Regions from separate parts of the Homo sapiens genome. Here region 2 is linked to region 1. Evidence: fine-mapped expression QTL. A gene starts in region 1. The other region holds a variant in brackets. All regions are shown on one strand. Distances are from middle to middle.

Region 1 (5,383 bases):
GAGGCAGAAAGATTCTAATTCCAGTTTCTAATATCACACGAACAGGACATAACTACTACCTTAAATAGGGGCAGTAATACCTAGGGCTTCACCTTATCATTATTATTTGAATTAGAATATCTTGCATTGCTTTCCTAGTGTGCCCTATCATAATCTTAACTCTCATGCCAATAGGTTGAATAATACCTTTAAAATTTTGTTGAAAACAACAAGTTTTAAGAATGACTTGGAAGGAGTGGTCATTGCTCCTTGGAGAAGTTATAGGAGTAACTGTGTGAACGCCAATGTTAAATTTTACTGATTTTTCTCATGCGCTGCTGATTGTTCTGTATGGAATACTTATTATTCTTACTAAATCACTTTTTTTCTTTTTCATTTTTTTCTTTTTTTGTGAGACAGGGTCTTGCTCTGTCACCAGGCTGGAGTACAGTGGTGCGATCTCGCCTCACTGCAAGCTCTGCCTCGAGTTCCAGCGATTTTTCCTGCCTCAGTCTCCCTAGTGGCTAGGATTACGGGTGTGCGCCACCACATCCGGCTAATTTTTGTATTTTTTAGTAGAGACGGGGTTTCACCAGGTTGGCCACGCTACTCTCAAATTCCTGACCTCAAGTGTTCCGCCTGTCTTGGCCTCCTAAAGTGTTGGGATTACAGGTGTGAGCAGCTGCACCCAGTCAATATCACTTTTTAGCTAAGATTTATATATAAGTTTAAAAGTGTTTTGGCTTCCAAACTCACTAGCAATTCCCAGACTTCAAAATTGACACCACACACAGTAATTTTCTGGATTCTCAAAGCCTCATACATATAATCCTCACAAGATAGCTTTAATAGTATTAATGAGGTCAAGGCCCTTACTTTTTTTTTTTTCACCAGGGCCAATTTATTTTGCTTAGTTTCTGTCAAAGACCTCTAACCAGGCATCTTATGTGAAAGCATGCTGTACGTTCCAAAGAAGCCTGGGTTAAAATCCAGATGACTTAAGTCTATTGGAAATTATACATCAAATCCATGTCCTAGAAACAATGTCATTTTCAAATCCCAAGTACAGTGTATTCTTTGCATGCATGGTATTTTTGATAAAGTCTCTTATTTTGTGACAAAATATTGCTATATCAGCTGCCTAAAAAAGTGCAACTTAGTTTGGCAGTAATTATTTTTTTTTCTTTGTATAGTGAAAAGCGATTTCCCCAACCCTCCCATCTTGGCCCTTGTAAGAAATCCTTTTTAGGAATCTATCCTGGGCTTCCTGCTGGACTTCAGCCTCATTTTTTTCTCCAATGCCTGAGTACTGGACCAATATTTGGTAAGAATTTGGCTCTGGGGAGTGCTATGTTGAATGACAAATGGTTGAGGACGAAGATTTTATTGAAGCATTTGAACCACACTTAATTTTCCGTGTTGCTTTATTTGTTCCTTTTACCACCCAGGATATTGAATTCTGTGGGCTCTGGTTGAGTCGTTGGTACTTCAGGCGTTCAGTAATAAGAAACATAATCTGCTTTTTCCGGCAGGATAATAAATCTCATTTATATTAAGGGAGGCTTACTCCAAACTCTTTTACATAGTATTTTTCTAAATCTTCTGCATGAACAAATTCTTCCTTGAGCCCTAGCACTGGGGACCCGGTCTGGCAACCTGCGCCCCATTCCGCGGGAATCAAGCGTGACCCGGTGCGGCCTTGCGCGCTGCCGCCAGCCAGACCCTCCCTCCGGCTTTCCCACCCACCGCCCGGGATCCAGCCTCCATCCCGCTGCCTCAGCTGTCCAAGACAGCGACACCCCCCTCTCCGCTCCCGCGGCTCCCCCGGCGCAGCTCGCCGCGCCAGACAGCGGGTAACCGCCGCCTCCGCTGGGGCATCCCGGCTCCACAGGCCCAGCGCGCTCCAGACACCTGCCTCTCACTGGCCACCGCCGCTGCCCCTCACCCCGCAGCCCTCTCGGCAATTGGCCCCAGGCCGCCGCTCGTCATCCTCAGCCTTCTCCTAGAGTACCGCCTCCGTCGCCGGGTCATTTAAGTTTATCACAAATAAATAAATAAAGGAGGAAATAGAAATGCGTAGAAAGTAAAAGCAGTAGGGGGTGGGGGAGATGGGGCGTGGAGGAAAAGGAGGGAGGAGCGGAGGAGTAAGCAACCTAACCTGATTGCGCCTGTGTCGACCAATCATGGCTCACTCCAGTCCGGTCTGACGGGCTCCCTGAACCAATAGCCTTCCACCTCCCGGATCACTGAACAACGAGATACGATTGACCTTTTCAGAAAGGGTGAAGGTGCGGCGGGGGGAGGGGGTTGTGGGGGTGGGCGAAGTGGAAGGATTGTCCACCAATCGCCTGTTAATACTTCTCTGAGCGAAGTTTCCGCGTCCCAATGGATGTTTGAGATAGCGGATTGGGCCTCTTTTAGCCCAATCGAAGGTGACAGAGATGAGGGAAGAGGAAGAAAGGGGCGGGGACGGGGGGGCGGAGGGGAGAAGGAAGAGTGCATTTTGTTTATGGGCGGCAACCTCACGAGGGGCGTCCCATTCTCATTGGCTCACTGAAGCCAAGATTGGCGTGAGAGCTATCCTATAGCGGGGAGAGATAGAGGGTTCGCGGAGTGAAGCGTCCAATGTGGGCCTTCTGCCGAAGAAGTAGGGGCGGGGGGAAGTTTAGGAGTTGAGGAAAGAAGATTAAAGAGCGCGAGGAGGTAATGCCACAAACTCTAATTTGTTGTGGGACGGGCGGGAGAGAGGGAGGAGTGTGTGCGTGCCGAGGGGGATGAGGCGTCTGCGAGGCGCCTGGAGTGGGGGGCGGCGGGACTGGGAAGGAGGGGAGCGGGGTGGGGTTGGGGGAGCGAGTTACAGAGCGGCGAGCCAGCGGGCCCTGAGCTGGATGAGCGCGCGCGCCCCCGCGCCCCGCCCCGCCCCGCCCCGCCCGCGCCCCCTCCCCCGGCGCCCTTCTTAGCGCCCGGCGGCTGCCTCGCCCGACCCGGCGGGGAGGTGGGAGGGAGGCGCGGGAGGGTCGAAGGGTGGCGGGGCGGGCGGGACGTCCCGCAGCTGGAAACGTGTCTTCTGCCTTCTTCTCTCTACTCCCTGCGCCTGGAGCCGCTGCTTCCAAGAAGAGGAGCTGAGGGGGACTAGCCGGGGCTCAGGAGCTGCTAGAGGCGCCCGCTTGTCTTCTGCCCCCTCCCTCCTCGCCCTCCCCCGCTTGCCGTGGCTCTCGCGGTCTCTGGAGCGTCTTCAGAGAACTGGGGGGCAGGAGGTGTCCTGGCCCCACAGCCGCTGGATGTCTCTCCAGACGCCGGAGCTCCCGGCCCCCGCCTGCTTCGCTTCTACGACTAGAGAGGAGGGGGCTTGGGAAGGGAAGACACACCTTTCCTTCTTTCTCTTCTTTGGGCCACTTCGGAAACATTAAAACATGTTAACACTTTTTGATTCCTGATATAAAAATGGTTGGAAGGTTCTTGAAAGTTTAAAACAAATGCCGTCTCTCGTACACTGTTTAATGTATTCCTGTCTGTGTGGCTTTTGGGTCCTCCCCCCACCCCCCGCCCCCAGCTGTTATCCTTTTTAAGGATGCTGAAGAGGCAGGAGGCAGGGATTTTCTAAAAGTTCTATTGATAAACACACTTGCACAAACATATGCTAGGCACACACACAAACTAAACATTAGCGAAAAACACAATATGGCGTACAGCTACGGTACCTAGCGCGGTAATCCGCTGATCTCTCACTCCGAACTGGGTTGAATGAGGTCAGTAGCAGGATGACAGCTCTCCAATGAAAATCTGAATGAATCAGGAAGTAGTTTGGAAGCTTGCGGGTGTAGTACTGTCCTCAGAATCAGCATTGGCCAAACCTAAGTTGAACATGTTACCTTTCTAGACATGTGAAAATCTTCTCCACTGTTTTTTCTATTAAAAATACCAAAAGGGTGCTAAAGTCAAGTTTCCTCACTGCGTGGCGGTGTATACATTTCAGCTAAAAAAATTATAGAGGCCATTCACCCAATGTTTTCAAGTGAACGCTATTCTGAAGTTACTGTTGTAACTTGTTGCCATTGAAAGTTTTAAAACACAATTACCATTTTATAAATAAATAGCTGTAGACACTAAATTTAAGTGATAACCAGTCATCTTTAAATTTATAATGGTTTGTTTTCATTTCTGTTCATGCTCCCAATCCCAAGTACCCTTTGCTATTTTGTGGAAATATTTATATAGATCCCCCTCCACTCCCGGTCACATACAGTCAGCCCTTCCTGTGCCTGGGTTCTGCATCTGTGGATTTAACCAGCTGCAGATCAAAAATATTTTGGGTGTGGGGGAATAGATGGAATAGAATATATATAGTTTTTTTCTTGCCACAATTCCCTAAACAATACAGTGTAACAACGATTTATTAATACATGGCATTTACTTGTATTAGGTGTTATAAGTAACCTAGAGATGATTTAAAGTATGTGGGAGAATGTGATTAGGTTAAATGCAAATACTACACTATTTTATGTAAGGGACTTGAGCATCTGTGGATTTTGGTTTCCTAGAGAGGTCCCAGAACCAATCTCCCATGGATACTGAGGGTCAACTGTAAGTTTGTCCAGTCAAGATGTGGCTACTTTTTGCTTTTTTGCTTTAAAATGAAGAATCTGTATTTTTCTAGTGAAAGAAAAAAAATTACATTGATTTTCATGCCTTTGTTCTTTGTGATTCTTAGAATATATCAAAGTTGTTGCACACATAGTGCATGGTGATATCCCTGTGCCATCTTTCCAGTAGTCTCCCAGGAAAGCTTTTGAAATTGCCCTTGAGGAATTGCTGATGTAACTGTTCAGTACTCAAGGCTTAATTTTCAAGATTGGGGTTTTGATTTTTATGGAGCTCAATTTTGGAGGGCCTTAGGTTTGGGGACACATGGTGTTGAAGTAAACAGGTGAGAAGAAGAAAAGTGAGATTTCTAGAACTATATTAGCTGCTCAGTGAGTTGGGCAATTGGATATTTTTGGTTTTATGATTTCAGATTTTATAGACCAGTGGAATACAGGCCTTGTGCATATGAAGATCAGGTGACAAGTTTGCTGCCTACCAGCCTCCACAGCAATATGCCCTTTCACGGTGAGGTCCTAATTTTAACAAGCTAAAGAAAGTATCAGGTTAAAAATTGTCAAATTTTATCCATTTCCAGGAAGAAGTCTTTATGCTTACCCATCTAGGCCCGTGTTTTAAGATTACTACAAAACCAAGAAAATGCACATATAGGTCATGTGTACATTGACTAGCTACTAAAAGAAAATACGAGATTAAATGGAATACTAGAGGAAAGAGAAACTTTCATGTGAGGGCTATAATTGGGGAAGGGGGTGTTTAGAACTACCAGTTGATGTGATGCCAGTTTCTTCTATAATTGGAT
Region 2 (5,383 bases), 800 kb after region 1:
CCACTTCAGCCTCCCAAGTAGCTGGGTCTACAGGCACATGCCACCACGCTCATTTAACTTTTTTATTTTTTGTAGAGACAGGGTCTTACCATGTTGCCTAAGATGGTCTCAAACTCCTGAGCTCAAGCCATCTGCCTGCCTCAGCCTCCCAAAGTTATGAGATTACAGGCATGAGCCACTGTGCCTGGCCTCAGAATACCCTTATTAAATGACAAATAATTTACCAGGGAAAAGTTACATACTCGAATTCTGATACATGAAAACAAATTAGTTTCTCAAAACAACCTTGTTTCTCAGATCAGCTAGTAGGAATCCAAGAGAGAAGACATAAAACAGTGAAGTTTAGATTGGGGACTGAAGGGAAGGAAAGCAACAGAGATAGAGGCAAGGCATCAAACATGGAATTGTACAACTGAAACAGAACGTTGCTTAAGATGAACTTTGCCTTCTTTGCAGGGTAATGTAAGTCAGGACATTATGTAAATTAATGTATGTACTTTTATGAGAATCAGTTTTTAAAGATCACAGTATTCACACTTCCAAATAAACAGAGTGACTCACTACTGAATTTATGAAGAAACTTGGGTAGTGGTGAGTTGCTTTGTTTACTTGGGATAAATGTGAATGTACTAATAACCAGAGGTAAATCACAAGAAATTTTCCATATGGTATGGATATCACCATTATTAGGTGAATTAATCAAATAGTAATGTTTTTATTTTGTAGCATCTTATGATTTATAGAGTGCTGTCACATAGTTTATATCCTTTCCTCCCCTGGATAGCTGATTTATAAGCCATTAAATTAAGGAACATGGGGGAGGGGTGCAGGAAGGACCATCTGTGAAAGTATCTCCTTAACCAAAGTTGACTTTGCTGGTCTTGGATCCATAAACATATCTGCTCTCCCCTCTGTACATCTCTTCAAGTAGACCTATCAGATGTAAAATTCACACATTCTGTTAGATCACATAATAAAATAAGTCTTTAAATTTGCAACATAAAATTTTCAATGTACTACCAAAAAGTATCTTCGTGATGTATAAATACATTTCTCCAATGGATTCACTGAAGGATTCTGTGGTTAACCGAGATAACTAGATTTGGACATAAGAAAACCAGCAAAGGATTTGTGCACTCAGACACAGATGCAAAAGCTATAGGTAGAGTCATTTTATAAATCTGAGTTATGCTTAAAATGTGGACTTCAGTTTTCTAGTAAATTATGAACATCCTCAGTAAATTATGAATGTTATTGTAATGGTGTGTATAATATAGCCCCATCTGAAAATAATAATGTGCATATATCAATCAGGCACCTAATTTAAAAGAAGTAATGCTCTTCCCTTTCATTCCAGAATTATTTGGCAGTGGCAGTTTGGAAATCCTATCAGTCTTTCAAGACTATTGTCTAACTGAAGGATCCCCTAACCTAACAAAGTTTTAGAACAATTGGTCTAGATTTCAAAAAGCAAGACAGCCGGAACATGTGGAAATAATTCAAGACCTGGGTTCATTGTAGCTCGCATTTCCAAACAAAGTTCTTTTCAATTTCTAGGGAAAACATAAAAAAATGGAGCCTCAAAACTTTCCAAGAGCCCAGTGGAAGTGATAAAAATTCAAAGCAAAAAGTCCAAATGTTAGTATAAAAAGATTCTAGAAAGCACGGGGATACTTGTAAGAGTAGAGTTGGACTCTGTGTTCCCACCCATACTCTAACCAAAAAGAGTCCTAAAAAAAAAGAATAGCTTGACAAAGTTAAAAAGAAATTTGAGTTCTCTCCATTACAGCTGCTATGCAAACCAATAGACCTGCAGAGTAACTGTCTTAGCAATTCAGTAACTCCAAAGTTTAATATAGATGGTAGTTGCTTTCAACAACTGCAGATATAAATTGTGTGTGATGGTACACACCAATAGTCCCAGATACTCAGGAGGCTGAGGCGGGAAGATCACTTGAGCCCAGGAGTTTCGAGGCCAACCTGGGTACCTATCTCTTAAAAAAAAAAAAAAAAAAAAAAAAAAAAAAAAACCTGAAGAGAATAAATTATAAGATTCATATTCCAATTAAAATCTTGTACTGCTCTATGTTAATGATCCACATTCATGAAAGAAAGTGTTTGGGGCCAGGCATGGTGGCTCACGCCTGTAATCCCAGGACTTTGGGAGGTAAAGGTGGGTGGATCACTTGAGCCGAGGAGTTTGAGACCAGCCTGGACAACTTGGCAAGACCCCAGCTCTACAAAAACTATAAAAATTAACCAGGCATGGTGCTGCATGCCTATAGTTCCAGCTACTTGGGACGCTGAAATGGGAAGATCACTTGAGCCCAGAAGGCAGAGGTTACAGTGAGCGGAGATCACACCACTGCACTCCACCCCGGGCAACATAGCAGGACTCTGTATCAAAAAAAAAAAAAAAAAAA[AT/T]CTGTTTGAGACAAAGAAGTAGTCCATCATATTGGCTTTGGAGCTAAGCTCTACCTTTAAGAATCAAGGAAGCTTTAGTTGTAAAGCATATTTCATAGTGATTATAACCCAAAAATTTAAAGTAGAGGCATAAATGAAAGACGATTGTACTGTAATTAGATGATTTGGATCCAGTTTTGTTTCCTCTAAATGCCTGTGTGTCCTTCAACAAATCAGTTAATTTCACAACTGTCTATTTCTTTGAGTTTAAAATAAAAATGATTTTTTCTGCCTTTTGATGTAAACGTATGATGCATGTGAGAGCTTTTCAGAAGAGGCAAAGTGTTACTTAATTAGAAAAATTAAAAATCCTCATCATTATTACTTTTCGCCCCTACTACCCAGGAGACACTTAGTTTCTTTGCTCTATTTCCTGTCTCTGAATAATACATGCTTGACATGTGTCCTTCCTCTTTGGAATTTAAACTCTGAAACTCCTTTATACTCCTTAGATTGCTCTTGAATATTCTTCATAACAAGAATTTTTTTATTTCTTAACAATTTTTATAACAGTAAAAGAAAATTGCTCACCTAACCACTCTTTATCCACTGCTAAACAAACCACGGAGGACTTCCTTATCTCTAGGAGTTTCTTTCATTCACTTACTGCAGCTTCATAAAAGTTGTGAGAAAGGAAACTAAGAGTTAAGGGCATGTTTGAAAGCAACAGAATTAGAGAGAAAAAAACAAAGATAATACAAACCATCCTGTCAGGGAAGAAAGCAGTGCTCCCCTCTACCCCCTTCATCAAGAGAAAAAAGCAGAAGTCAAATAAAGGAATGGAAATGAAAGGGAAAGACAGAGAATACAAGAAGGATAAGCCTTGGTGTCAACATGGATGTGGAAGGCAAGCAATAGGGCAAATTCAAAGATAACCCTGGAGCAGTGTGATCCCTACACTAGCAGCATGCAAATTATGTTCCCCCACCCTTCACCCCCACCCCAGACATCCTAAATCAGAAACTCAGGCAATGGAGCCTAGAAATCTGTGTAACAAGCCCTGGTTCATGCTGAAGTTGAGAATCAATTCCCTAGAGAGGTGAGCCTGGGTAATTAGAAGAATGGCATCAGGTTGCTTTTGTTACATAACATTTTTTAAAATTCCACTAATAAGAATCTGTTTAGAAAAAGTAAATCAAAATTATGGATCAAAGCTTGATTTTGTAGTGGATAAATTATATCACAGAAACTAATCACTCACATATGAGGTAAGTTGAGTCTTCCAAATTACATAGGTCACATGGCAAATGTATCCCTTCTGGTATTTAGCAGGACTGACTTGTATTATTCATATCATCATGTATTATCTTTACACCTTCCCTTTAGAATGTAAACTCTGTGAGAGCGGAAACACACACACACAGAGACATACATTTCACACACGTATATATACATGTATATCACACTTTCACATGCCCATTCATTTGGTCAATGTGCACATTCACCGAAAACCACCTGATCTCCAAAAACTATTGAAATAAAATAAATAAAAGAAAATTTTAAAATGTGAACACGCTTTCCAGGAGAATTTAATTCAAGGGACTTATACACAGATACATTCTTTTCACAGCAAGAGTTTTAAATTTCTTTGTTTTTTCTCTTTTTTTATTTGCTATAGAATATATTGTACACATATCTGTGTTCACACTTTCGTGTTTTTTTTTTACCCACAAGAGATAAATATTTTGGCGTTTTCTGAATCATATTATCAACAGCCCGTTCACTGGTGACTGTTTTTAGCCCATTGGTATCCTCTGCACATACGGTAATTTTGCTTATTACTTTGAGAAGTTCAGCTATTTCAGCCATGAATTCAGTGTAAATAGACATAGTAACAATAGTAGCATAACAATGTTGGTGATTGGGCCATAATAGTCATATGAAGATAATGTGTTAATCCTCATATGGAGCTTGGACTATTAATTATATCAAGCCAGTGGGTGTAAAGTAACAAGTATAAGGCTTGGAGTGAGAAGGCCATGATATTACCACTTTCTGGCTGAGTCACTTTGGCTAAGTTCTGTAACTGACCTAAGCCTCAGTTTTTCAGATCTGTAGTACTTACTTTACATGATTGCTCTTTGAATTGAATAACATAATTTATGTGAAAACACTTAATTATGAATGCTGTAAAACTATCAAAGCCATTAATATGTGTTATAGTAGCATCATACATTTTGCAGCATAATCCAGAGAACAAGGAGTTGTTAACAAGGGAGAGGAAGATAATCTGGTTGGGCTAGTATTATACTCTCAGGTGCTACTGACTTCTTAGATGACCTTCAAGATGTTAGTACAACTCTCTACTTGGAGATGCTATTTTCTGGGGATGTTAATATCCACTCTATTCACAAAATTTTAAGAAAAGTCAAGTAGCATGGATGAAACTCTCCAAAGTTCTGCTTAAAACTAAAATATCTTAGTTGTCACTGAAGCCACAGATATTTTGTGAATGCAGCATGTTCCCAATAGGCAGTCCCTCTTAGCCTCACAGTCCAAGCTGGCAACAGGATCACATCCCAGGGAATGAACAGAAAGGCTGGCAGGCAATCACACCGCTGATATCTCAGGTGTGTGGGCCCCCCATTTTTTTTTTGAGATGGAGTCTCACTCTGTTGCCCAGGCTGGAGTGCAGTGGTGCCATCTCTGCTCACTTCAACCTCCACCTCCCGGGTTCAAGTGATTCTCCTGCCTCAGCCTCCTGAGTAGCTGGGATTACAGGCGCCCACCACCATGCCCAGCTAATTTTTTGTATTTTTAGTAGAGATGTGGTTTCACCATGTTGGTCAGGCCGGTCTCGGCCTCCTGACCTCAGGTGATCCACCTGCCTCAGCCTCCCAAGTTACAGGGATTACAGGCGTGAGCCACGGTGCCCAGCCGTGTGGGCCCCCTTTTAAACAGACGTCTCTTGACGGAGACT

Evidence for each region. PIP is the estimated chance that this variant, and not a neighbour inherited with it, causes the effect.
Region 2: its variant is the best candidate, but not a certain one, in a credible set for the expression of ZBTB20 in whole blood (INTERVAL, PIP 0.67).

Annotation. Positions count from the first base shown.
Region 1 is chr3:115,144,518-115,149,900 of GRCh38, reverse strand. ZBTB20 (zinc finger and BTB domain containing 20) reads left to right here and starts at 2,613. Exons shown (of 12, transcript NM_001348800.3): 1 at 2,613-2,682. RefSeq lists silencers at 1,618-1,837, 2,398-2,567, 2,878-3,147 and enhancers at 1,888-2,097, 3,828-3,937.
Region 2 is chr3:114,343,725-114,349,107 of GRCh38, reverse strand. All of the region lies in intron 11 of ZBTB20 (zinc finger and BTB domain containing 20), which reads left to right. Among named protein-coding and RNA genes, the nearest start is that of ZBTB20-AS1, 5.4 kb to the left of the region's middle. The variant AT/T (reference allele first, on the strand shown) is at 2,424.